Homo sapiens: one gene and its partners. The protein of the gene in region 1 interacts with the protein of each later gene in a pairwise test. Each region holds a gene or a part of one and is shown in the gene's direction. Other genes may lie near its edges. The genes, in order: SNRNP70, CEP63, OBI1, SMAD5, USP25, SRRM4 and GTPBP2.

Region 1 (3,500 bases):
GGCCTTCCAAAGTGCTGGGATTACAGACGTGAGCCACCGCACCCGACCTTTTTTTTTTTTTTTTGAGATGGAGTATCGCTCTGTTGCCCAGGCTGGAGTGCAGTGGCGTGATCTAGGCTCACTGCAACTTCCACCTCCCGGGTTCAAAGGATTCTCCTGCCTCAGCCTCCTGAGTAGCTGGGATTACAGGCACGCGCTACCATGCCTGGCTAATTTTTGTATTTTTTGTAAAGACGGGGTTTCACCATGTTGGTCAGGATGGTCTCAAACTCCTGACCTTGTGATCTGTCTGCCTTGGCCTCCCAAAGTGCTGGGATTACAGGCATGAGCCACTGCACCCTACCAGCCAGTTCCTATTTAATGTGTGGTTGATGAGACCTTTAAGAGCTGCCTTGGCCCTCAGAGGGTGTGCAGTTGTGGGCTTTGGAGCCCTGTTCTGTCAGCTTATGTTGCTTTAGGCCTGGTCATCCTCACTGGCACTCATAAGCAGGGCCCTGCCATCACTCCACTCCCATCACATCCTCTGGCACTTTGTTCAATGTGAGTGATACTTGGAGCTGTGAGAAGCAATGTCTTTCCTAAATATGGAAGACAGGGTGTTTCCTAAATACTATAAAGCTAGATGTCACCTGTACCAGTGCTTTTCAAACTGTCTTTGGTGAAGGACAGATACTGTTTCCAATCTGTTTGCTTTTGATAAATATGATAGAATTACTTTTTAAAGAAAGATCTACAGTCAGGAGTTCAAGACCAGCCAGGCCAACATGGTGAAACCCTGTCTCTACTAAAAATGCAAAAACTAGCCAACATGCTGTCGTGTGCCTGTAATCCCAGGTACTCACTCAGGAGGCTTAGGCAGGAGAACCGCTTGAACGATTCTAGTCAGTTGCTGGGTTCCTTTTAGAGAGACGGGCACAGGGGGGAAAGCAGGGCTTAGAATCGCTTGAACCTGGGAAGCGGAGGTTGCAGTGAGCCCAGATCGCGCCATTGCACACCAGCCTGGGCAACAGACCACAACTTCGTCTCAGAAAAAAAAAAGACCTACAGAATAAAAGACCAAATTTGTATTAAGAGTCAGTGGACATCAAATTGTGAAATTACTGTAGAAGTTCCTGAACACTTAGTCCTGGTTTCTGTACTTATCACAGTCCAGCAACAGTTTAGATAGTACTGGTCCATGGACCATGCTTAGTTTTTGAGACAGGATTTTTTTTTTTTTTTTTTTTTTTTGAGACGGAATCTTGCTCTGTTGTGCAGGCTGGAGTGCAGTGGTGCGATCTCGGCTCACTGCAACCTCCGCCTCCTGGGTTCATGCCATTCTCCTGCCTCAGCCTCCCGAGTAGCTGGGACTACAGGCGCCCACCACCACGCCCGGCTAATTTTTTGTATTTTTAGTAGAGGTGGGGTTTCACCATGTTAGTCAGGATGGTCTCGGATCTCCTGACCTCATGATCCGCCTGCCTCGGCCTCCCAAAGTGCTGGGATTACAGGCGTGTGCACTGCACCCGGCCTTTACACCTGGCTAATTTTTAAATTTTTTGTGGAGATGGTGTTTCACTGTGTTGTCCCAGGCTGGTCTGAAACCCCTAGGCTCAAGCATTCTCCCTGTGTCATCATCCCAAAGTGCTGCGATTACAAGTGGAAGCCACTGTGCGTGGCTGCAGACCTTGCTTTGATCTGTGCCACTCCCCTCCCTCCACTGTGTCAGGGGAAGTGTGCGTGGATGTTTATTTTTGTAGGGGGTGGGGGTGGGAGGGTTAACCTGTTTATTTCCTTGGTGAGTGTCCCTTGCCATTTCCCCCAGTCCTTCCCACCCTGTCACCTCTCTTCTTGTTCCCAGGACCCTCGAGATGCCCCTCCTCCAACTCGTGCTGAAACCCGAGAGGAGCGCATGGAGAGGAAAGTATGTCATTTTTGCTTCCTGACCCCCTGTTTTACCACTGTCTCCAGATGATCCTTGACACTAGGGCACTTCTATCTGCATTCACTTCTCCACCTCCCCTTTCTCCTGACAGAGACGGGAAAAGATTGAGCGGCGACAGCAAGAAGTGGAGACAGAGCTTAAAATGTGTAAGTCTCTCATCCACCATTTGGCTCTCTCCTCTCCCAAACCCTCTGTATTCTTCCCAGGTCATACCCAGGACCCTGCTGTCTCCCTAAGGCCTGTGTTGTGGGGAACAGGGTTGTTAGTTCATTTGTTTAGCCCCTGCCACTTCACAAGCACTGTTTTTGGTTTAGGCTTTTCAGCAGCAGAACATAGGGTAAAAGTTGGCAGGAAGGGAGACCCCTGGTACCTTGGGCTCCTCCTGCATGGGAGGACAGTTAAGGGGCTCCCACAACCCAGCTGGGTGTCACAGGCTGAAGTGGTGGGTTGTGGGATAGTGGTCTGTCCTGGCTCTAACCTTAGGTCCCCAACCCTTGGGCTGAGGATGTTCCATCCCCTCCACATAGAGGAGGAATTGGAGTACAAGACAGGTGTGTTGTTGCCATTAACCAAACTCATAAGAGGGTCAGATGTCAACCTCCAGTGGCTCTTTATTCTGAAAGTGAAAACTGTACAGTCACAGGCAGCATAGCAGTGTTTCACTCAGCAGGGGACCGTGGATGTGATGGTGATCCTATAAGATTATATCATATTTTGCCAGGCACTGTGGCTCACGCTGTAATCCCAGTACTTTGGGAGGCCGAGGCAGGCGGATCATGAGGTCAGGAGTTCGAGACCAGCCTGGCCAGCGTGGTGAAATCCTGTCTCTACTAAAAGTACAAAAATTAGCTGGGCGTGGTGGCGAGCGTCTGTAATCCCAGCTACTCGGGAGACTGAGGCAGGAGAATCTCCTGAACCCAGAAGGCGGAGGTTGCAGTGAGCCGGGATCGCGTCGGCTCACTGCAACCCAGCCTGGGCAACAAGCAAAAATCTGTCTTAAAAAAAAAAAAGATTATACCGTCTATTTACTGTACCCTTTCTATGCTTTGATAACGTTTAGATGCACAAATACTTACTATTGTGTTAGGATTGCTGTAGTATTTGGTGTAGTAACACGCTTGGCCTCGGAGCAGTGGGACGCACCCTCTAGCCCAGGAGTGTTAGGTATGCTGTCTAGGCTCGTGGAAGTGCCATCTCATGTTGGCATATCGACATCATCATCAAACGACGCACTTCTCAGAACATGACTCTAGTGAGAAGACAGGTTTTCCTCCTATACCTGTGAACTTTGATGAATCCCTTTCCTCCAAATCCTGGAGTGCAGGATTTCCTCACGGTGCTTACGCAGAAGCGTGACAGAGACATCTGGCGGTGCACTCTTTGGACATTGGCTGTCGGAACGCTGTCTTGATGTCCTGCCTCAGAGGCATCTCAGACTCAGTGTCCAAACCACAGGGGTTTTCCCTCGCCACCAACCTGGTTTCCTTTGGGTGTTTTCTCTGGGACATAGACATTCAGCTGTGCCGGTCATGACCTCATTTTTTGCCATGCAGTTTGTTTCTAACACCTTTTCTAA
Region 2 (3,500 bases), on another chromosome or scaffold:
ATGGTTGGTGGAACTCGTTTCTCTGGAGTTGGGTGAATGGTAAAGCAGGCACAAACCTCCTTTTGTTTTCCTGTCTGACGTTACTATTCTGTACTTTATTGTAGAGAAATTATTCCTAAGGTCTTCTAGATTTTTTATGAAGTATTGTTGGTTTCCAGGACTCTCAACACTTTATATTTCTTATTTTCATGAGTTTTTTTGATGAAAAGGGTTGAGTAGGATAATCAGACAGAGAGACACAGTTTCGGCCGGGCGCGATGGCTCACGCCTGTAATCCCAGCACCTTGGGAGGCTGAGACAGGTGGATCACGAGGTCAGGAGTTCAAGACCAGCCTGGCCAAGATGGGGAAACCCTGTCTCTACTAAAAATATAAAAATTCGCCAGGTGTGGTGGCATGCGCCTGTAATCCCAGCTACTTGGGAGACCGAGGCAGACAATTGTTTAAACTTGGGAGGCAGAGGTTGCAGTGAGCCAAGATTGCACCACTGCACTCCAGCCTGGGCGAGAGTGAGACTCCCATCTCAAAAAGAAAAAAAGAAAAAGAGAGAGAGTCTTCATCTAAACCTAGAAATTCTAAAAACTAGCTGTTTGTTCACTATTTTTTGGCAGTGTAAAGAATTCTTAAATAACTAGGTATTTGACTTCCTAAGAAGTGGGGTATCACCATATATATGCATTTGAGAACTTGAATTTACAAATAAATACAGAGATTATTTTCTATTTTTATATCTCAGGGATGTTATTTCAATGCTAATAGTGAAAAATACTACCACCTTTCTGCTTTTAGGTTGGAATGTTGCATCAGCAGGTAGAAGAACATGAAAAAATCAAGCAAGAGATGACCATGGAATATAAGCAGGAGTTGAAGAAACTACATGAAGAAGTGAGATTTTAGTTTTGTTAAATGTTGTGTGTGTAGTTCTCTCTCTTTCACCCTTGAGAACTTTGTTAATGAAAGCCAGTTTCTACTTTGTAAAGTGGGAAATACATACTCCATCAAAGATACAGGAGTGGGAATCCATTTCTCTGTTCTTTAATCCAGGTAAAGAGGTTTGCCTAACTGTAGGTTTGATACTACCTAGAAGAGATGCTAAAATATGTTTCTTGGTTGAGTACCTGAAAGAAATAGAGCTGTTTTTATGTAATACTGTGAAATACTTGATACCAAAAATTACATTTAATATTTTAATTTTTATCAGTTACTAGATTATAAATAATGGAGGATCCAAAGATTTAAGAAACATTTTGGGATAAATAAGACAAGTAAGAAAATTCTGTCCATTAACTCAATTTTATTCTTCAGATTTGGAAAAAACTGCTTTTATTCTGATTTAATTGCAAAGTACTCTTCTCCTGCATCCTGAATATCAGTGCCCTGCAAGAGCATGGCTTGAGAATCACAGACCTAGAGGAAAGAAAAAGAGTTTTTATTTGCTGCTTTATTGTGGGGCTGGGTGGTAGGGTCTTTAAGTGCAGGGCTATTGTAATACAAAACTTTTGTTTAAAATTTTTTTTAAAATTTTTTCTTTGAATATATTTCTTTAGTAGTGTTTGTTTTACATATTTAATTTTTAGTTTCCTTTTGTGTTTTAGTTTGGAAATCTAACATGTTCTCAGTAGTACTGGTTAGCACTGCTCTTGTTTTCATAATACCAATTTGTCTCACCACTACTTCTTACAAATTCTTAAACTTTAAATATAGAAATAACTGTTTCTACAGTTATGCATACTGAAGAGAAGCTATGAAAAGCTTCAGAAAAAGCAAATGAGGGAATTCAGAGGAAATACCAAAAATCACAGGGAAGATCGGTCTGAAATTGAGAGGTTAACTGCAAAAATAGAGGTATGTTCATAGTAATAATTTGTTCATAGTGATTGTCAGCCTTCACGTAGGAAAATGCGGTTTCTAATGGCACTATTTTCTGGAACCAATTTTCTACTATCTTAAGGACTGCCACTAAGCTATTTCAGAGGTGAGAGGGTGATCCACCATACATCCTATCATCATCTAGTTCCCTGGGTTAACGGGGTTACTGGCCATCAGTAATTCTCAACAGGGCAGTACCACCCTTAGGGAGCATTTGCAAATGTACGGAGACATATTTTTTTGGTTGTCAAAATGACTGAGCTTAATAAAACTGGCATTTAGGGGACAGGGACCAGGGATACTAAACATGCCTAAGAGTGTTCCACACAGGAAGGATTATTGTACCTCAAATGCCAGTAACTCTCCAATTGGGAAACATGACCACTAGTTATAGGCAGTCCTCTATGGACATTGTTCTTGTCTTATATATCATTGTATCTCAAGCACCTAATAAAGTGGGGGCTTAGTAAATGTGGAAAGTACATGGCACTTTTCGTACAAAGTAATCTCTGTATCAGATTATTCTCAATTCCCATTTAGATGTAGTAAGGCATTCACTTCCTTCTCTGCTGACTTTGTTTTTATTAAGACTGAATAACTCCATGATTATTGTATATATTGAGAACTTAAGGGGAGCTGGTGAGCTAATAGTACCAAGAGTAGATGAAGGAAGAGCACAAGGCTGTCATTCTCTTCGTCTGTCCTTGCCATTAGTTCTTCACTGGACATAAGAATTCCCAGGGTGCTTTTAGGCTCTCAGAAATGCTGATCCAGCAGTATGGCATAGGACCTAGGGATCTGCATTGTATCCAGCTCCCCTAGCTTATTCTGATTTGAGAAACATTGTTCAACATCTTTGTGTGATCACTTACAAGTTTGTACTCTGGGTGACCTGTCACCCACAAATGCCAGTATATTATTATTACTTAAAATTATAATTTCTGTGTTTAATATTCCTTTATATCTCAATATTTTTTTACATTTGAAGAGCTTAGAATCAGAAGACTGCAGCTACTGCTTCCCTTCCACCCTTTTCGGCAATACCTTTTCCCCCCAAACCCTATATCCTTCTTGCTTCTCATTGCCACTTCCTGACTATTCTCTTTTCTTTCTACCTCAAAAACCCCATCTTTGATTTTCATGTTACCAGCCTATACTGCCAGCCAATGAACATAACAACCAAAATAGTCATCGTCTGACCTCTGGGTTATTTCCTTGGCTCATTGATTTCAGCACCCAGCTCACTGTCAATTCTCTCTGACATTACTCTTATCATAACTTTGAGGATCTTAGGATCTGGAGAGATGATGCTTATAATACTCTGACCTTACAGTTTCTTGGCTTTCTTTCCTCCATAGATAGTTTGATTATCTTTGTGTCTCATCTACTTATTCCCACTGCCATTCCTTAGCTCTTGTCATTACCAATATATGCCACCCCTCTAGAATCTCATTTTCAAGCATTCAATTATCAGACTACCAATCCCTATCTTTTCAGCTAACTCTCTCTAGTCCTTTGACTCTCAGTAATCATTAACCATCCCTTAAAATGATTAAATTCTGCCACCTTTTTACTGCTCCATTATCTACTTGGTGTTCTCACTTATCGGTCCTTAGCCAGCTTTTAAATTCT
Region 3 (3,500 bases), on another chromosome or scaffold:
AGGCCACACCACAAAAGCTGGTCCAGGTCCAAAGATAGCTTTCGCTTTGTTTCATTACCTCAGCTACCAAGTGAGGGAAACATATAAAGTCAAAGTTTGATGAGGCAAGTGGACTGACTTCCCCAATGTCCCCCTTGTTCCTCCTCAAGAAGGCATTTCTGAATTTTGGCAGTCTTGGCCACCCACTGGGCTTGCTGCATTTACCCATTTTGTTGGAATTGCCATTGAGAACCAGAAAGGCAAAGTGAATTGCTCAAGGATAGTAGCGTAGCACTAGAGCTTATTAGTTTTTTGGTACTCAGGTGTGGTATTCTTTTACCACATTTGTTTTCTTCAAACACGTCCTGTTTTTCTGTGTGATAGACTATGAGAAAATATGGTCTTAGGAACTTTTTGTTGTTAGAGATGCTCTTTAGTTTAGTTATACCACCTCAAAGGTCATACCAATAGGACTTCCATTTCTCTTTTACTAGGGACAGAAATGATCTTGTATCTCTTAGAGCTATTTGGACAAGGGGAACTGGCATCCTTTTCTCTCTCATCCAGAATGTATGTATCAGTTAATATTGCAAGCTGAAAAATCCTTTAAGCTTCTGTTAGATTCTGGCAGAATACAGTTCCGATATCAATTGTAGCTCCCAAACTGCTCTGCAGTGTTTTTTCTGGCACAATGAAGCCTTTGGCCATCACTGCTACTTTGAAAATCAAAGCCTTTTGGTCTCTAATGGAATGTTTATAAAAATACTCCATTTTGAAATTTACTCAAGAAAAGGAGGAAGTATGGTAAATGATATTAGAAATCCCTCCGGCTTGCCTTGGCATAGCTTCATTTAGTGTTGTATACTCCAAATATCTAGAATTAGTGTGAATACAAAAGTATTAAAACCCAAAGATAAATAAGCTCATGTCCTTCTTCTATGGAAGTATAGCATCAGATACTTATCCCTAATTGTTATTTCTCTATAATAAGGTAAATTGCCCTTTGCCAAATTTAATATAGTTATCTTGGATAAGCTGAAAATTTCCTGACACATGTCAAAAGTCTCATCTATTTGCAGTCTTACTAAGGTGAAGTTTTTTGGGGTGGAGCAGTATAGAATGTCAAGCCTGTAGCAAAAAAGGCTGTACTGTACATATGTCAGTCTCTGTTGCTTTCCTGGGTGTCAGTGAAATAAAGTAAACAGTCAAATGTAGTAAACAAAACATGTTTACTTTAGTAATACAGTGACTGTCATAATACTTAACATGTAAAAAGAAGGCCAAGGACCTTTAGCTTATCCTGTGGTGTCAACCCTGTCTCAATGTAAGGCACTAGTGTATCTTAAAGTAAGAGAATGACTTTTATTCAAGAAATACACAACAGGCAAGTGCCGTATACCAGGAATTGTTCTAGGAATCTGGCAGTGAATATAAGACAAACTACCTGCTCTCCTTGAGCTTCTATTCTAACGTGGGAGAAAGAAAGCAAATAAATTACATGAATTGATTAATTGATCAGTTGCATGGCTTTTAGTATACATTTCTGTCAGTCTGCCAACCAGCACAGGTCCCTTATTAGCATGGGAGAAGGGCCTGATCACTGAAAGTATTATAGATTTATAGAGTATTGAAAGGAAACTTAAGGAAATTGGGGGCAGTGGCCTTTTAGAAAACAGCCTAACTCCATCAGTGACTTCTGCTTGCTTGTGCCTCTCATATGTGATCTGCTACTGGCCTTTGTTACTTCTCTCTGAAATAACACAAAAATTATGTTTAGGGCTCTCATTGACTTCAACTCCAAACCATATGTTACTTCTTTTAAAAACATAATTTCTAAAAAAAAAAAATATATAGAGAGAGAGAGGCAAATACAGTATCTTAAGATGATACTATATTTGAAATTCCAAGCTAAAACCCTGGAACAAGAAGCTGGTAATATTTTGGGAAGCATTCTTTATTTTTGAGTAGTCTTTCTGTGTGTAGGCCTCTAAGTTCCCAAAGATATCCTTTGGTAGCAACTGACTTACTATGTAGTAGCATTATTTGATTTTAAGTCATTTGATTTTTTTATCTGAGGAGATACCTTTATTATAAAAAATTTTACTTGAAGAAATTTATCTTGATAAGCAAATGTAAGGCTGTCACTTTTGCTTATTGGCATTAAATAAACATACTACAGTTTTTCCATTTAAAAATGTGGGTTATTTGATTATGCCAGAGTAGTTACAATCAAGAACTAACAAACATTTGTACTTAATGTACTGAAAGGTCTTTGCCCACTTTTTAAAAGTTCTCTTGCAGAACTACAACTCTGTGAAGTACTACATTTATAAGCCAAAACATTTTTAACAAAGAAGAAAAATTCCCATCATTCATTTAACCAAATACAGTAGTAAACTTTGTCTTTAAAATGGGGAGGCTTGTTATTATAGTTGCTTTTGTTTTTGTTATACCTGTGGTTTTTGCTGTGTTTTTTTAGAAGTTGAAGGGAGCGTGCTCTCTCTGGGGGTTCAGTTAATTGCAGTGAGTAAATCAATATTCAGCAATCATGTCTTTTAAAGCCCTTTCTAATCTTGAGATTTTATGATTCTATATTTACCTTTGCCTCTGCTTTTTCCTTCAGTGATAAGAGTGCAGGGATTATGTAGGGGTTGAGATGGGGAATGAATTGGGCTAGTGGTTTAGGAGGTGATGGGCATTAAGTGGGAGTTGAAAACATGTTGTGGTTGATTCTAAGAGGGGCAATTGCTATTGGCTTCTGCTTTTTTTGTAGTTTTTTTTTTCAATACTAAATACATGTTCTTAATTGTAATTATTTTTCAAATTAGGGGAAAAAAGGAAGAAAAAGATAAACCCAAAGATAAAAATAATTTTTGAAAGTCACCTTCTCATAGCTTCCTCCAAACAGACAATCCCTTAATTCTTAGAAATGGGCCAATATATAAATCATCAAAAAGATGATTAAGAATAGGCTTTGAAAAGAATTTTGGAGGAGATAAGGTATTTTTCACGGGATTATGTTATTTATTGGCTCATAAGTTTCCTGAAAGATAGAATTTATTTTTGGTGATAAGATTGAATTTAAGGTAGATATTTTATGTCCCTTGGAGCTAGACAGTCTTTTTTATCTTTTGTGTTCCCAGCCCCAAATATACCACCTAACCTATACTAGGTACTCAAAAATTGTTTCCTGAGCTTAACACAGTACTCATTCTTGGTGGAAATAACAGCAAGATAATCCCGGTGTAAAAGGAGTAGACTTTTTGTGAATAAGGGAATTCTTTTTCAGTCACTCTCCAAAATGTTCTCTTTCAGAAAGTGTACAAAAAAATTTTTTTTTTTGCCTAGTATATTGGAATCACAAGCACTGACTTCATATTTCAAAGTTGAAAGAAATGAGATAGATGTCCCACACAGCTGTAAAATGCCAAAAATAAGTAGTGCTGACATAAATTAAAGGCCAGTGCTCTGAAAAGCCACAGAAAAGCTTCAGATCAAGGGTGGCTATAATTGAAAGGGCC
Region 4 (3,500 bases), on another chromosome or scaffold:
ATAGGAGGTAGAGCAACCTGGTTTTGCCTCTGGTTATCATTTGACATTGCCAGTGTCTTACTTGTTCATATTATGGGGAAGGAATCGAGTGGTCACAGAACTTTTGGAGAAAATTTATCAATTTTTTGTTTACTTTGTAATGCTTTTCTGTTCTTATTTAATAAAATATGCCTTTCGATTATATTAATTTAAATTTGTATATATTGAATTGATTTAAACTAGGATCCTTTCCCCCTTTCTCTTTCAGGACTTGACCCAATGAAAGAAGCATATGGCACTTGTGAAGATAAATGTTACTCCTCCCTTTTTAATTGGAACTTCTGCTTAGGACCTGTGTATGACGTTTCACCTGTGATCTGTTCTTTCGGTAGCCACTGACTTTGAGTTACAGGAAGGTCTCCGAAGATTTGTGTCAAATGACGTCAATGGCCAGCTTGTTTTCTTTTACTAGTCCAGCAGTAAAGCGATTGTTGGGCTGGAAACAAGGTGATGAGGAGGAGAAATGGGCAGAAAAGGCAGTTGATGCTTTGGTGAAGAAACTAAAAAAGAAAAAGGGTGCCATGGAGGAACTGGAGAAAGCCTTGAGCAGTCCAGGACAGCCGAGTAAATGTGTCACTATTCCCAGATCTTTAGATGGACGCCTGCAGGTTTCTCACAGAAAAGGCTTACCCCATGTTATATATTGTCGTGTTTGGCGCTGGCCGGATTTGCAGAGTCATCATGAGCTAAAGCCGTTGGATATTTGTGAATTTCCTTTTGGATCTAAGCAAAAAGAAGTTTGTATCAACCCATACCACTATAAGAGAGTGGAGAGTCCAGGTAGGTCTTATTCCTGAGAAGAATTTGGAAAAACAAAAACAAAAAACCTCTCTTCCTGATATGCATGTAACTAGATTTAGTAATGAAAAGGTTGTATTAGCTTTGTGTTTCCATCTTAAATATTCTAATCTTGGAAGGGCTATTGGATTTTGAGTTTAGCTTTTTATATGTAGGTGATACAATTCTCAGGTGGCTTACTCTAATTCATTATTCACTGTAAGCACCCATATATCTACTCTGCCTTTTCCTGTGGATGACCTGTCTCTGTTTTATTTAAAGCCTAAGCTCCAAGTGTGTACTATATCCCATTCCTTTTTGTCAAATGAAGAACTTTGTTCCTACAGTTATCATCCTTCTCTCCAGCATTATATTTTCCCTTTCTACCAGAGTATTTCTGATAGCATACAAGCATGCCATGATACTACCCATCCTAAAATAAAACTTAAAAAAAAATTCTGCTTTTCACTTCATTCACATAACCCAACCCCAATCACTGCACTGTTTCCACTGGTCCTTTTAGAGGATTCTCCATTTTTATTATCTTTATGTTTCATTTTTTTCTTGTGACTTCTCTAGTTAGTCTTTCTTTCCTACCATTTAACTTGTCGAGATCACTAGTGACTGCCTTTTTATAGGTCAAGGGGTCATTTTTGAGTCTTATCTTACTGTCCGCTCAACTGCATTTGATACAGTTGATCTCCTTCCATCCTACTCAAAACTTTTTCTGTGTTTGGCCCCTAAGACAGTATGCTATCCTGGTTCTCCTACCTCACTGACTGTTCTTGCCCCTCTTTGCTGGCGTATTCTCCTGTTTTCACAGGAGTCAGTCCATGGACCTTTTCTCCATTTATATTATTTCTTTATGTGCTTTCATGCTGTCACATGTCTTAAGATTGTCTATAAGCTGATGCTCACATTTTGAACTCAAGTCAACTTCTCCCTTGAGTTTTAGATTTGTGTATCCAGTTGCCTACTTGACATTTCCACTTGAATATTTATTTATTAAACATACCAAATGTAATATGTCTAAGCGCAGTTTTTTTTCTCTGGTTTCCCCTATTGAAGTGAATGGCAACAGCATTCATGTAATTGCTAATGCCCTAAACTGCAAGGTCATCTTTTATTCTTCTTACTTAAATCCTATATTTAAAATATGAGCAAATGCTGTTTGCTGCACCTTCAAAATATGTCTTAATAAATATGTCACCTCTCATCATTTGTGACATCACTACTTTAGTACAGTACATCATCATCATCACTCACCTTAAGTAGTGTCCTAATTGGTCTTTCTGCGTCTCTTCTTCCCCTTAACCCATTGTGTTTTCCACACAACAGCCAGAATGATTTTTTAAAAACATACTAAATCATGTCAGTTCCTACTGAAAACACTTTCAAGGCTGTCACACTTAAAGAGATTTCTGTAAGACTCTGTATGACCTATCCTCAGAGTTCTCTGTTCCTTGGACTTGCCATACTCCTGTTTCCAGGCTTTAACTCTTGCTGTCTACTTATTCTCCCCCAGGATCTTTCCATGGCACATTTTCTCATTCCATTCAGTCCTTGCTCAAATATCCGCATCACTAATTGACTCTATATTAGATATTTATTTTGTTTATTGACTGACATGAGCAGAGTCTTCCTCTATTTCATTCATTACTCTATCCTTAGTGCTTAGAATAGTATATTGTTGTCTGGCACTTGGTAGGTGATGCTCAGTAAATTTTTTTTATAATGAATGGTATAAGCTGAGCTGCTAGCTGAGTGCATTAGTCATCTATTGCTGCATGACAGATTGCCACAAACTTAGTGGCTTAGCACAATGCATGTTTATTACCTCACAGTTTCTTTGGGTGAGGAGTCCAGTCACATTTAGCTGGGTCCTTTGCAAGGCGCTGTAATCAAGGTGTTGGTTAGGGCCAAGGTCTTATCAGAAGCTCAATTAGGGAAGGATCTGCTTCCAAGCCCATGTGATTGTTGACAGATTTAGTTGCTTTCACATAGCCTTCTTTATAGGTAGTTCACATTCATGACAGCTTCTTCAAAGCCAGTAAGGAAGAGAGGGTCTTCTGGTAAGAAGGACATTATATTCTTGTGGAATGTAATCATACATACGCTGTCACCTTTGCCATATTCTGTTGGTTAGAAGGAAGTGATAGGTCATACTCATACTCAAGCAGGGAGAATTACCCAATGGTTTGAATACCTGGAGGTGGGAATCACAGTGGTTACCTTAGAGTCTATCTGGGTTTCACGTGGAGATGTGTGGTAAAAAGACTGAAAATAACATTGGATGTGGAGACTAGTAGAAAGGATAGCAGATAGCAGTGATTATGCTGTCTGTGAAAGTTCAACTTAAGAGCTTTAGAGTGTCTTTAGACAGTTGGTATGATATGATTCTCAGTTTCTTACTGAGTCCAAGGAAAGCTGATAGCTGAAGGAACTGATGAAGAAAGGAAGATAAAAGGATTTAATAGAGAAGTATAGGCTGAAAAACTCCCAAGCTTGCTATTTGCTAGGAGGGAGTCTAGGAATTTTATGTATTCCCCTATAGCCAAAGTGTGACTAGTAGTCAGCCAGCCAATAGAAATGTCTTATTTTTTGTATACATTTTTCTCAGCTATGATTCATTCTATAGAAAAGACTGGGGCATAGCTCTGATACTTTTAAATAACGGAAAATTT
Region 5 (3,500 bases), on another chromosome or scaffold:
GTTCCAGCTTTTGTTTGTTTAATTTCATCTTTCGCAGACAGAGGTTTCCTTGCAGCATTACCTGGTTGGGCTTCAGCATTATCATTTGAACTTTAGAAGGAATTATTACTTCAATAGAAGATTGTTTTACAGTGCTACAATGTAGTATTGTGACTGTCGCAGGCATGCACAAATCTGTCCAGATACTTAACTTATTTTCATGTAGATCAAATAATTGTCGTTGATTTTGATCCTGAGAGGCAGATAATTCAGCATTTTTTAAAAAGATAATGGTATCACAGCAACATTTGGATACTACAGTGCTATGGAGAATACCACCATTATAGTGGCTGGTGAACTCTACCATTATGTAGGGCTGCACTTTTCCCCCACGTGTACAAGGCTACCGCGTAGAGCAGGTGAAGCTATGTGGGTCCACAACAATGTAGTTTTTAGTAGATGTCAAGAGGTATCTAAGCTCAAATCACAGTGTAGTAACTATATTATAGTTCCTTTCATTTTTAAAACATTTCTGTCCCTTTGTGATTTCATGCTTTGCATTCTGTACATATTCTTTCCAAATCACTCCTCAGAACCTGCCCCAAGATGGAGCTACTGTGTTATTGTTCCCTTAACATTTACTTATTCCATTCACATGTGACTATTCTTGTTATTAGTGGGAGGAAGGGGCTGCATAGTGTACTATAAGCAGTTGTGGTACCTAAGCTCCCAGACACAGGTGAATCCTCCATTCATTGGTTAAGCTCCAGTTTTATTCTTGGCTCACCTATATTTTGTGATACCAAAATATTAAGTTCTATATATCCTCCTCCTCTTCATCCTGTCTGTTTCTCATCTCTCCAAATTTTCAGAGTTAACATATTTTATTTCTGCTTAGTCAAACGAATACATATTTCCAACTAATATTCCTATCTATTAAGGACTAGCCTTGCCCCATCCTCATTTTACATTTGTCATCTTTTTTCTTTCTCTGTGAAAAGACCATGTGTGCATAACTGCATCCATTTTCATGATCAATACATCTGACCATACACTTTACATGGTGTTTTGTAATTTTTAAAAAATGCAGTACTAGGTATTGGACATATATTTTCATGTCTGTTTTTACCATGCAAAATAATCTTAGAATGTTGATATATTTCTGGGAGGAACCAGAATAAAAGATGAAGAGATGGAAATGGTCAATTCCTATTCCTAGATAACTTTTATAGTTACCTTTCAGCGTGGGTTATTTAGAAAGCAGTGGTAATACTACTTCTGTAGGAAACATTGTATCCTCCATAGACTTGACGGAAATATGCACTTGGTTTGAATTAGTAGAAGTAGAACATGCCAAGTCCATAAATTTACAGAGTGAGATTGTTGTTTAAAAGATTGGTTTCTATTACTGTTATCTTTGAGATTATATTAAGAAATTTGTTCTCTGTTGCAGGATAGTTTCACATATCATAATTGAATAAGACTAATGTTTCATTAGAACCATTTATTCCCTATTATTAATAGGGAAATTTTATTTTAATGTCCATGCCATCCTCTTCTGATTCTTCTCATGGTTTTCAAAGTAAGTAATTTAATTTGGTATAATACTTCCAGGATCTCAAAGCAAATCTGTATTTTAATCTCTCAGGTGTTCACTAGTATTACCAGTGACTAGTGGAAATAATAAAAGGAAATCTTGTTCATAAAATCCAACAGAATGATTTTTTTCCTCCCTGCAAAATCTTCTCGTTAAAGCTGAAACATAAGACCTCATAAAATTCAATTTCTACTGAGTGATATTCCAATTAAGAGTACTAATTCATATTATATTAATCAAATTAGTATTTGTTCCTCTTCTGCTAAAATGTGATCGAGAAATTCATGCGTATCAGTTCACCAGCACCATTCGTTCCCTACTGAGATAATAAATGATGGGAAAGTATTTTTTGGTTCATTTCATGCTGCTTCCCTAGATCTGCTTACTGCAAAGGCAAACTTACCTGAATACTTTTGTTGAGATTTTCAGCCAGCCATTCTTTGCTGTCAGTGTGGGGATCAGAATGAGTAGGGGAGCAAACTTACCTGAATACTGTTGTTGAGATTTTCAGCCAGCCATTCTTTGCTGTCAGTGTGGGGATCAGAATGAGTAGGGGAGCAAACTTACCTGAATACTGTTGTTGAGATTTTCAGCCAGCCATTCTTTGCTGTCAGTGTGGGGATCAGAATGAGTAGGGGAGCAAACTTACCTGAATACTGTTGTTGAGATTTTCAGCCAGCCATTCTTTGCTGTCAGTGTGTGGATCAGAGTGAGTAGGGGAGCAAACTTACCTGAATACTGTTGTTGAGATTTTCAGCCAGCCATCCTTTGCTGTCAGTGTGTGGATCAGAATGAGTAGGGGAGCAAACTTACCTGAATACTGTTGTTGAGATTTTCAGCCAGCCATCCTTTGCTGTCAGTGTAGGGAACAGAGTGAGTAGGGGAGCAAACTTACCTGAATACTGTTGTTGAGATTTTCAGCCAGCCATCCTTTGCTGTCAGTGTGTGGATCAGAGTGAGTAGGGGAGCAAACTTACCTGAATACTGTTGTTGAGATTTTCAGCCAGCCATCCTTTGCTGTCAGTGTGTGGATCAGAGTGAGTAGGGGAGCAAACTTACCTGCATACTGTTGTTGAGATTTTCAGCCAGCCATCCTTTGCTGTCAGTGTGTGGATCAGAGTGAGTAGGGGAGCAAACTTACCTGAATACTGTTGTTGAGATTTTCAGCCAGCCATCCTTTGCTGTCAGTGTGTGGATCAGAGTGAGTAGGGGAGCAAACTTACCTGAATACTGTTGTTGAGATTTTCAGCCAGCCATCCTTTGCTGTCAGTGTGTGGATCAGAGTGAGTAGGGGAGCAAACTTACCTGAATACTGTTGTTGAGATTTTCAGCCAGCCATCCTTTGCTGTCAGTGTGGGGATCAGAGTGAGTAGGGTTTTTTTTTCTGAGTGTGAACAGCACACCCTACCTAAGGCCACTTAAGAGACACTGGAGTCAGAATCTCTGGAGAAAGGATCTGATACAGTGCTATCTTAAAGAGATCTTCAGATAATTCTGAGGTTAAGCAGCATGGCTCTAGGCTGTATTTATAAAACAGAAATTATGCTGGAGAGAAGAGCGTTGTCCGAGTTACTATTTTACTTATATTACTCTTGTCTTATCCAAGAAGTATCTGAAGTCCTTACAATATAGCACACCCAGATTTCTTTAAAAAATAAGGAAACACTAGTGAAGATTGGAATGAAGTGTATTGCGTAAGGTTTTATAAATTTCTCTAGAGGAAGCAGGCAGAGTTGGCTCTGGAACTTCTCTACACTGTCTACAAGTTAAAAATAAGCTGATGTTCCAGGAGAGTACGGTTGGATCCTGAGAGTAAGACCTGGTAGAATAAACAGTATCGTCAGTGTTCTCAGATTCCTTGAAAGCAGGAACTAGGTGATATTCTTTTTTTTTTTTCTGAGACAGTTTCACTTTGTTGCCCAGG
Region 6 (3,500 bases), on another chromosome or scaffold:
GTATTTTTCTTCTAGCTATTTGAAACTGTAAAACATATTATTGTCTTAAGCATGATAATGTAGGGAGAAATAGAGACAGAGGAATGTAAAAAAAAAACAGCGAAGGGAGAGACCCTTAATGAAGCATGGAGTCCCTTGCTTATAGTCACACAGTTATTTTTAGTTATCCGATCTGCAAAATGGGGATGATTCTTCTATTTCATCAACGTTATCTACAAATACAAGGAATGATCAGAGAAAATCAGACCTTTGCCCCCAGCAGGGTCTCAAATACCATTTCTTTTAATAGGAGAGAAAGCAGGCTAAACTCTCTGAGGGGAACATTAACTGTGGGGGAATAGTCAACGCTAGTGGAGGGGAGCCGTGGAAGGGAGCTGCTCATATAATATACATTTTCCAGCTCAAGGATGCAGTCTCTGGCGTGGGCTATTAGGCTTCTTGTCCTTCATGGACCAGCTCTAGCTAATAGGAAATCTAGTCTGCATTCCATGAACAACCACCAGTGATGGGGGGATTATAGCGAGCCTGCAAATGTGGAAGATAAAATTAATCACAGGGGAATTAATACACAAAGTGGAAGAAGCTGCACGTTGGCTAAAAAAAAATTAGGTTGTACTTTCATTCATTTATTCAGTCATTCAACATTTTTATTGAACCACTACTCAACGTAACAGTGAATGAACACAGGAACTCCCTGTTCCCGTGGAGGAGAAAGACAATAAATGAAGAACCAAATAAATAAATGAGAGCTGGTGGTAATGCATTCTGTAAAGAACAATAAAGCCAAGGAAAGGAATAGAGGGTGAGGGAATGAGCTGCTTTGTTGGACAGCATGATCCCTGAGTGAAGGGAGAGGTGAGCTGTGAGGATAAGTGAGAGAAAAGTGTTTGAGGCAGAGGGAACAGCAAGTGCAAAGGCCCTGAGGTAGAAGGATGCTTGGTGTATTTGAGAAATAGCAAGGAGGTCAGTGTGGCTAGAGCAGAGTGAGTGAATGGGAGAGTGACAGAAGATGATTCCCAGGATGCAGGCAGAAAACAGATCAAGTGGGGCCTTGTAAGCCAGTTCAGGAAATTCCTAGGTCCTGGGCTGGGGGCAGGAGGTGGTCCCAGGAGGGTTCTTGCCTTCTCAAGCAGAGTTCCAGATCTGATCTGCTTCTGTTTGACTCCTCTTTCCTGACTCTGATGCAGCCAGTGATGACTTTGAACAGCAATATCAGAAGATTGGCTGGGTCCCTCCATGTGTTATGGACAAGCATGAAATTTACAGTCCCTTTGATTGTGAACAATCACATCAGGAAACTTTAAAGATGCTGTTTAGACTTCCAAATAGCAGTGATAGATTTTGTTCCCACGGTGCAAGGGTTTGGTCTCTCATATTCATGCATGCAAACCTAGACTATCCCTTGCACCCAGTAGCCCCCTCCACTGCACACTCTTGAAGCTACAGTCTGCTCTTTCTGTCTCTCTCCCTCTGTGTATCTCTCCCGGCACCTGTCCCCCCACACCTTCCAGCCCCCCACTCCATTTGAAATTTTGCTGAGGGAGCTCCCATATGCTACAGCCTCTGTGCGGAGCTCTGTGAAATAGAACACTGAATTAAGATGTCATAGAGACAAAGCCAAACCAAATACAGGAACAATGCCGAACCCTAAAACAGTCATTAAGTAATTCATGTCTACGTGTGTCTGTTCAAAACAAATATTAAGATCCTCTGGACGCAAATCTTTCTCATCCGGAGAATCCTCTGGTTGCTGGATTCCCAAAGCTTAGATGCCGCTGTCGGACAGCTTTGCTGAGTACAAATACCAACAGATCACTGTTCTCTGGCTTCGTTAAAAGTTAAGCTTAGGCAACTGAGCAGGAATTTAGAAGACAGTTGCCACTTCTGCAGAAAGAGAGGTGCCATTTGGGCCTGAAGCGTGCATCTTCATGGTGTGTGTGCACGCTCACTTGTGGTGGGAATGTGTGTGCTAAGAGCCTTGTGTTACTATGTGCCTTGCCCTGTGCTGAACACATTTCATCTCTTATCCAGTTCTGTACTTATAATAATTCCAGAAGAGAGGTGTCTTCAAGACCCTATTTTACAGATGAGAAAACAGAGGCTCTGAGAATAGAAATGATCTGCTCACAGACACATGGCTGGTAAGAGTCAGAATTGGAATGAGAACCCAGAGCTCTTAACCAACATGTTTATAGGATAAGACACTTTGCAGAGGAGGAAAAAATGGTATCACAGAGGGGAGGTAAGCCCTGGGAATCCAGCAACCAGGGGAGTCTCTAGATGAGAAACCTTTGCGTCCGGAGGTTCTTACTATTTGTTTTGAACAGACACACGTAGATGTGAATTGCTTAATGACTGTTTCAGGGTTCGGCATTGTCCTATTTGGTTCGGCTTTGTCTCTATGTCATCTTAATTCAGTGTGCCCATGATCACACGGTGTGTAAGTGATGAAAGCAGGAGATGAATTCAGGTCTGTCTGATTGCTAGTATATTCTTCTCTCCTGGCTGGACTTCCTGTCATTCTGGTTTGGGTTTTAAGGTTGGGGGTGTTTTTGTTTTGTTTTGCTCATCTTGTTTTATGTTCAATCAGTTTAGTAACTGCCATTGTTATAATCCCATCTCATACCACTTGCAGCAATACTGCTTTCCTCTTTCCTTGCCCCTCTTATCCATTATCCACATAGACCCAGAAGAACCTCTTTGAAAAGCACATCAGACCATGTAAGCCCTCTCTCCCTCCATCTAAAGCCCTCTATCACTTTCTCTTGTTTGTGTTTTTTTGGTTTGTTTTTGTTTTGAGATGGAGTCTCGCTCTGTCACCCAGGCTGGAGTGCAGTGGTGCGAACTCAGCTCACTGCAACCTCTGCCTCCCAGGCTCAAGGAATTCTCCTGCCTAAGCCTCCCAAGTACCCACCCCGCACCCAGCTAATTTTTGTATTTTTTTAGTAGAGACAGGGTTTCACCATTTTGGCCAGGCTGGTCTTGAACTCCTGACCTCAGGTGATCCACCCTCCTCGGCCTTCCAAAGTACTGGGATTACAGGTGTGAGCCACCATGCCTGGACCCATGTTTTTTTAAGTATACAGAGCCAGCTCCCTGCCATGGCCTCTAGCCTCTTCATGGTCCACTTCCTGCCCACCTCCCTGAGACCATTTCTAAAACACCACCTCTCACTTCCTCTGTTTAGTTGCATCTTATTCCTTTTAGTTACTCACATTTTCCAGGCTCCTTCCTGCCATGGAGCCTTTGCACATGCTGCTAGGAAAGCTCTTCCTCTCCCCTGGTGCCTGATTTATACCTACTCCACTTTCCAGAGCTCAGAGGAAATGCTGTTTCCTCGGGGATCCTTCCAGAATGCTGCAGACTAAGTCATACCCCTCATTACAGACATTACTTTCTTATCACTGTTTTCAACACATTTGTAATTATATATGGATTTGGGCGATCATTGGCTAAAGCATACCTCTCCTAACGGTTGAGGCCTCATGAGGAGAGGGACT
Region 7 (3,135 bases), on another chromosome or scaffold:
GCGAGCTTCGCTCAAGACCCTGCACCGGATGGCAGAGAAGTATGCTTCCCCTTCCCCACCAGTTCTCCTTTACCTGACTTGGGGGGACCCATGCATACCCAGTTACCTAGGGCCTGAGGGGCCAAGGTGGGACTTTCCTTCTCTTGACAAAGGGCTGAAGTGGGGAGGGTTAGTGTTTTGGTCCCCTCCTCACTGGACCTAGGCTGTTTTGCTCCTTGAATTAAGATATGTATATTTGTTTTAAAGGGAACTGTGAATGAGGAATAGATTGGAGGGTGGTAGGAAGTGCACTAAGGTATTGGGAGCTCTGTGGGAGGTGCAGGAAGTCTGTAGGTCCAGAGCGAGCCTGGAATAGGAGAAGGACAGGTGAGATATGGCAGCTGTGGCCTTGCTGTGACAGGGTTGGGGCAGACATAACCGTTCTTCGAGAGCGAGAAGTGGATTATGATAGCGACATGCCCCGGAAGATCACCGAGGTGCTAGTACGAAAGGTCCCTGACAACCAACAGGTGAGCACACACCCATCCCTGTCTCTCATGTCCACACTGTGGAAGGGCCCTGTGGTGGCAGGCTGTCTCCTGGCCTGGGATCCTGGGGGCTTCCAGTTCATCACTTGCTCCCTAGGGAGCGTCACTGCCCTTGACCCAGTCTTCAGTTAGAGGGGTGAGAGATTGGAGTTCTTATCTCTGGCAATTCATCCACAGTTCCTAGACCTCCGTGTGGCCGTCCTGGGGAATGTGGACTCTGGGAAGTCAACTCTGCTTGGAGTCCTGACCCAGGGAGAGCTGGACAATGGGCGGGGCCGGGCTCGGCTCAACCTTTTCCGCCACCTGCATGAGATTCAGTCTGGCCGAACCTCCAGCATCAGCTTCGAGATCCTGGGCTTTAACAGCAAGGGAGAGGTGCATGGGATCAATGGGACCCAATGGGGCCAGACTCTGAGGATGGGATGGTAGTAGTGAAGGACATAGGATGGGGGTAGAGTGTGGAGACTTTTTGAAATAGTATAGATGAATGCCCTGAGGGGACTGTGAACAAGCTCTGCCCCTCTTAGGAAATCAATGGGGAATCAACTAAATTAAATAAAAAATGGGGTCAAGATTAAGAGGCAGGGTCACCCAGGGAATGGTTTAGGTCCTGGCAACTCTGAAGGGGTTGGAAGGGCTGGCAGGAGGCACTGAGGGCCCTGGGCCCTGGGCCAGGTGGTGAATTACAGCGACTCACGGACAGCAGAAGAGATCTGTGAGAGCAGCTCCAAGATGATCACCTTCATCGACCTGGCAGGCCACCATAAGTACCTACACACCACCATCTTTGGCCTCACATCATACTGCCCCGACTGCGCCCTGCTCCTCGTCAGTGCCAACACTGGGATTGGTACGAGGCATTAGGGCAGGGACAGGGCTGAAGGGGGGTGCTGACTCTCCTACCCTGGGCCTCAAATCTTGGAGACAGACCAATGCTCCTCTTCTTCCCTCTCCTCCCTCCTGCATTCTCACTCTTCTCTCCTGCTGCTTGCTGTCCTTATGAGGCAGCTGGCACCACAAGGGAACATCTGGGGCTGGCCCTGGCCCTGAAAGTGCCCTTCTTCATCGTGGTCAGCAAGATCGACCTATGTGCCAAGACCACAGTGGAGAGGACAGTACGCCAGCTGGAGCGGGTCCTCAAGCAGCCTGGCTGCCACAAGGTCCCCATGCTGGTCACCTCTGAGGATGATGCCGTCACTGCTGCCCAGCAGTTTGCTCAGTCACCCAAGTAAGCCCACCTTACTCTAAAGCCCTGATCCACTAGGAAGGCTGCCACAGAGCCCAGGGCCCAGAAGCATGATATCCTACTTCTCCAGGGCCAGACCAGTTCTGGCTTAGTTCTGCGGGTGTTTCAGCTTGGGATTGTGGAGGGGCATCTTGCTAAAGGGCTTGACCCTCCTCCCGAGCCAACCTGGAGCACTGCTGATGCCTGGGACCATGGCGATGAAGTGCTATACCAGGCATTTGCTGTTTCCCTTGGGCTCGGATGGGCTTTTTGTGTGACATTGCTCGACTGGCTCACAAGAAGGCCCAGAGTTCCTGAGCCATTTGCAGACAGGAGAGAGGGGCCCCCAGCCAGAACAAAGCTCACCTTTCCATGTATGGGGCTCTGGCCTCTGCCTCCTGTTTGGACTGTCTTCATCTGTCCATTCCATGCCTCCCTCTACAGTGTCACCCCCATCTTCACATTGTCCAGTGTGTCTGGAGAGAGTCTGGACCTCCTCAAAGTCTTTCTGAATATTCTGCCGCCACTCACCAACAGCAAAGAGCAGGAGGAACTCATGCAGCAGCTGACGGAGTTCCAGGTAGTTGACTGCCCAAACATCTAATAGGCTGGGAAACAGGGAGGGGCTGCTTCAGACCAAACCCAGAGTCTGTTTAGAGATTTTGGACCCACCAGCCCTACTTGGCAGGCCATTGATAGCGTTTTCTTTGGCTTCAGGTGGATGAAATCTACACAGTACCAGAGGTGGGGACTGTTGTTGGAGGAACACTTTCCAGGTAAATTGTCTTGCTTGCTACCCTCCCCACTCAGCCCTCACCTATATACTCAAAGACATCCTGGCCCAAAGGAGGAGACCCTGGAATTGAACGGAACCCATTTAAAGGACATGCTTATTTGCAGATTAGGCTTTCACTATCAGAAGAGCTGGAGAACGGTAGTCTGTTGGCTTTGGAGGGAAGAAACAGTATTGCTGCCTATTGGGGAATCTCCAGGCCCCTGAGAGAGAAGTGTGGGTCTTGAGCTCCAGGAAGAAAACTAGAGTGTATTCAACTGACTTCATCTCACACAGGGAAATGAGAGACGTCACTTAAGACTCTTCTTTCTTTCTTTCTTTCTTTTTTTTGAGACAGAGTCTCGCTCTGTTGCCCAGGCTGGATTGCAGTGGAGCGATCTTGGCTCACTGCAACCTCTGCCTCCTGGGTTCCAGCAATTCTCCTGCCTCAGCCTTGAGTAGCTGGAATTACAGGCGCCTACCACCATGCCCGGCTAATTTTTGTATTTTTAGTAGAGATGGGGTCGTCACCATATTGGCCAGGCTGGTCTTGAATTCCTGACCTCAAGTGATCCACCTGCCTCAGCCTCCCCAAGTGCTAGGATTACAGG

Evidence for each region.
Region 2: the proteins of SNRNP70 (region 1) and CEP63 interact in binary tests that used the Homo sapiens proteins (3 or more experiments, as listed by UniProt).
Region 3: the proteins of SNRNP70 (region 1) and OBI1 interact in a two-hybrid assay, tested with the Homo sapiens proteins (one large-scale study listed by IntAct).
Region 4: the proteins of SNRNP70 (region 1) and SMAD5 interact in a two-hybrid assay, tested with the Homo sapiens proteins (one large-scale study listed by BioGRID and IntAct).
Region 5: the proteins of SNRNP70 (region 1) and USP25 interact in a two-hybrid assay, tested with the Homo sapiens proteins (one large-scale study listed by BioGRID and IntAct).
Region 6: the proteins of SNRNP70 (region 1) and SRRM4 interact in binary tests that used the Homo sapiens proteins (3 or more experiments, as listed by UniProt).
Region 7: the proteins of SNRNP70 (region 1) and GTPBP2 interact in binary tests that used the Homo sapiens proteins (3 or more experiments, as listed by UniProt).

What each region holds. Positions count from the first base shown.
Region 1 is NC_000019.10:49,088,451-49,091,950, forward strand, and holds part of SNRNP70 (U1 small nuclear ribonucleoprotein 70 kDa), read left to right. Parts: intron 1-1,840; coding exon 1,841-1,903; intron 1,904-2,015; coding exon 2,016-2,070; intron 2,071-3,500. UniProt on the Homo sapiens protein: Component of the spliceosomal U1 snRNP, which is essential for recognition of the pre-mRNA 5' splice-site and the subsequent assembly of the spliceosome. SNRNP70 binds to the loop I region of U1-snRNA.
Region 2 is NC_000003.12:134,531,057-134,534,556, forward strand, and holds part of CEP63 (centrosomal protein of 63 kDa), read left to right. Parts: intron 1-788; coding exon 789-884; intron 885-1,703; exon of another isoform or gene 1,704-1,721; coding exon 1,722-1,844; intron 1,845-3,500. UniProt on the Homo sapiens protein: Required for normal spindle assembly.
Region 3 is NC_000013.11:78,617,656-78,621,155, reverse strand, and holds part of OBI1 (ORC ubiquitin ligase 1), read left to right. Parts: intron 1-3,500. UniProt on the Homo sapiens protein: E3 ubiquitin ligase essential for DNA replication origin activation during S phase.
Region 4 is NC_000005.10:136,153,345-136,156,844, forward strand, and holds part of SMAD5 (mothers against decapentaplegic homolog 5), read left to right. Parts: intron 1-247; 5' UTR 248-416; coding exon 417-819; intron 820-3,500. UniProt on the Homo sapiens protein: Transcriptional regulator that plays a role in various cellular processes including embryonic development, cell differentiation, angiogenesis and tissue homeostasis.
Region 5 is NC_000021.9:15,834,482-15,837,981, forward strand, and holds part of USP25 (ubiquitin carboxyl-terminal hydrolase 25), read left to right. Parts: intron 1-3,500. UniProt on the Homo sapiens protein: Deubiquitinating enzyme that hydrolyzes ubiquitin moieties conjugated to substrates and thus, functions in various biological processes including inflammation and immune response.
Region 6 is NC_000012.12:118,988,041-118,991,540, forward strand, and holds part of SRRM4 (serine/arginine repetitive matrix protein 4), read left to right. Parts: intron 1-3,500. UniProt on the Homo sapiens protein: Splicing factor specifically required for neural cell differentiation.
Region 7 is NC_000006.12:43,623,130-43,626,264, reverse strand, and holds part of GTPBP2 (GTP-binding protein 2), read left to right. Parts: coding exon 1-39; intron 40-400; coding exon 401-509; intron 510-704; coding exon 705-902; intron 903-1,202; coding exon 1,203-1,377; intron 1,378-1,535; coding exon 1,536-1,755; intron 1,756-2,196; coding exon 2,197-2,332; intron 2,333-2,469; coding exon 2,470-2,528; intron 2,529-3,135.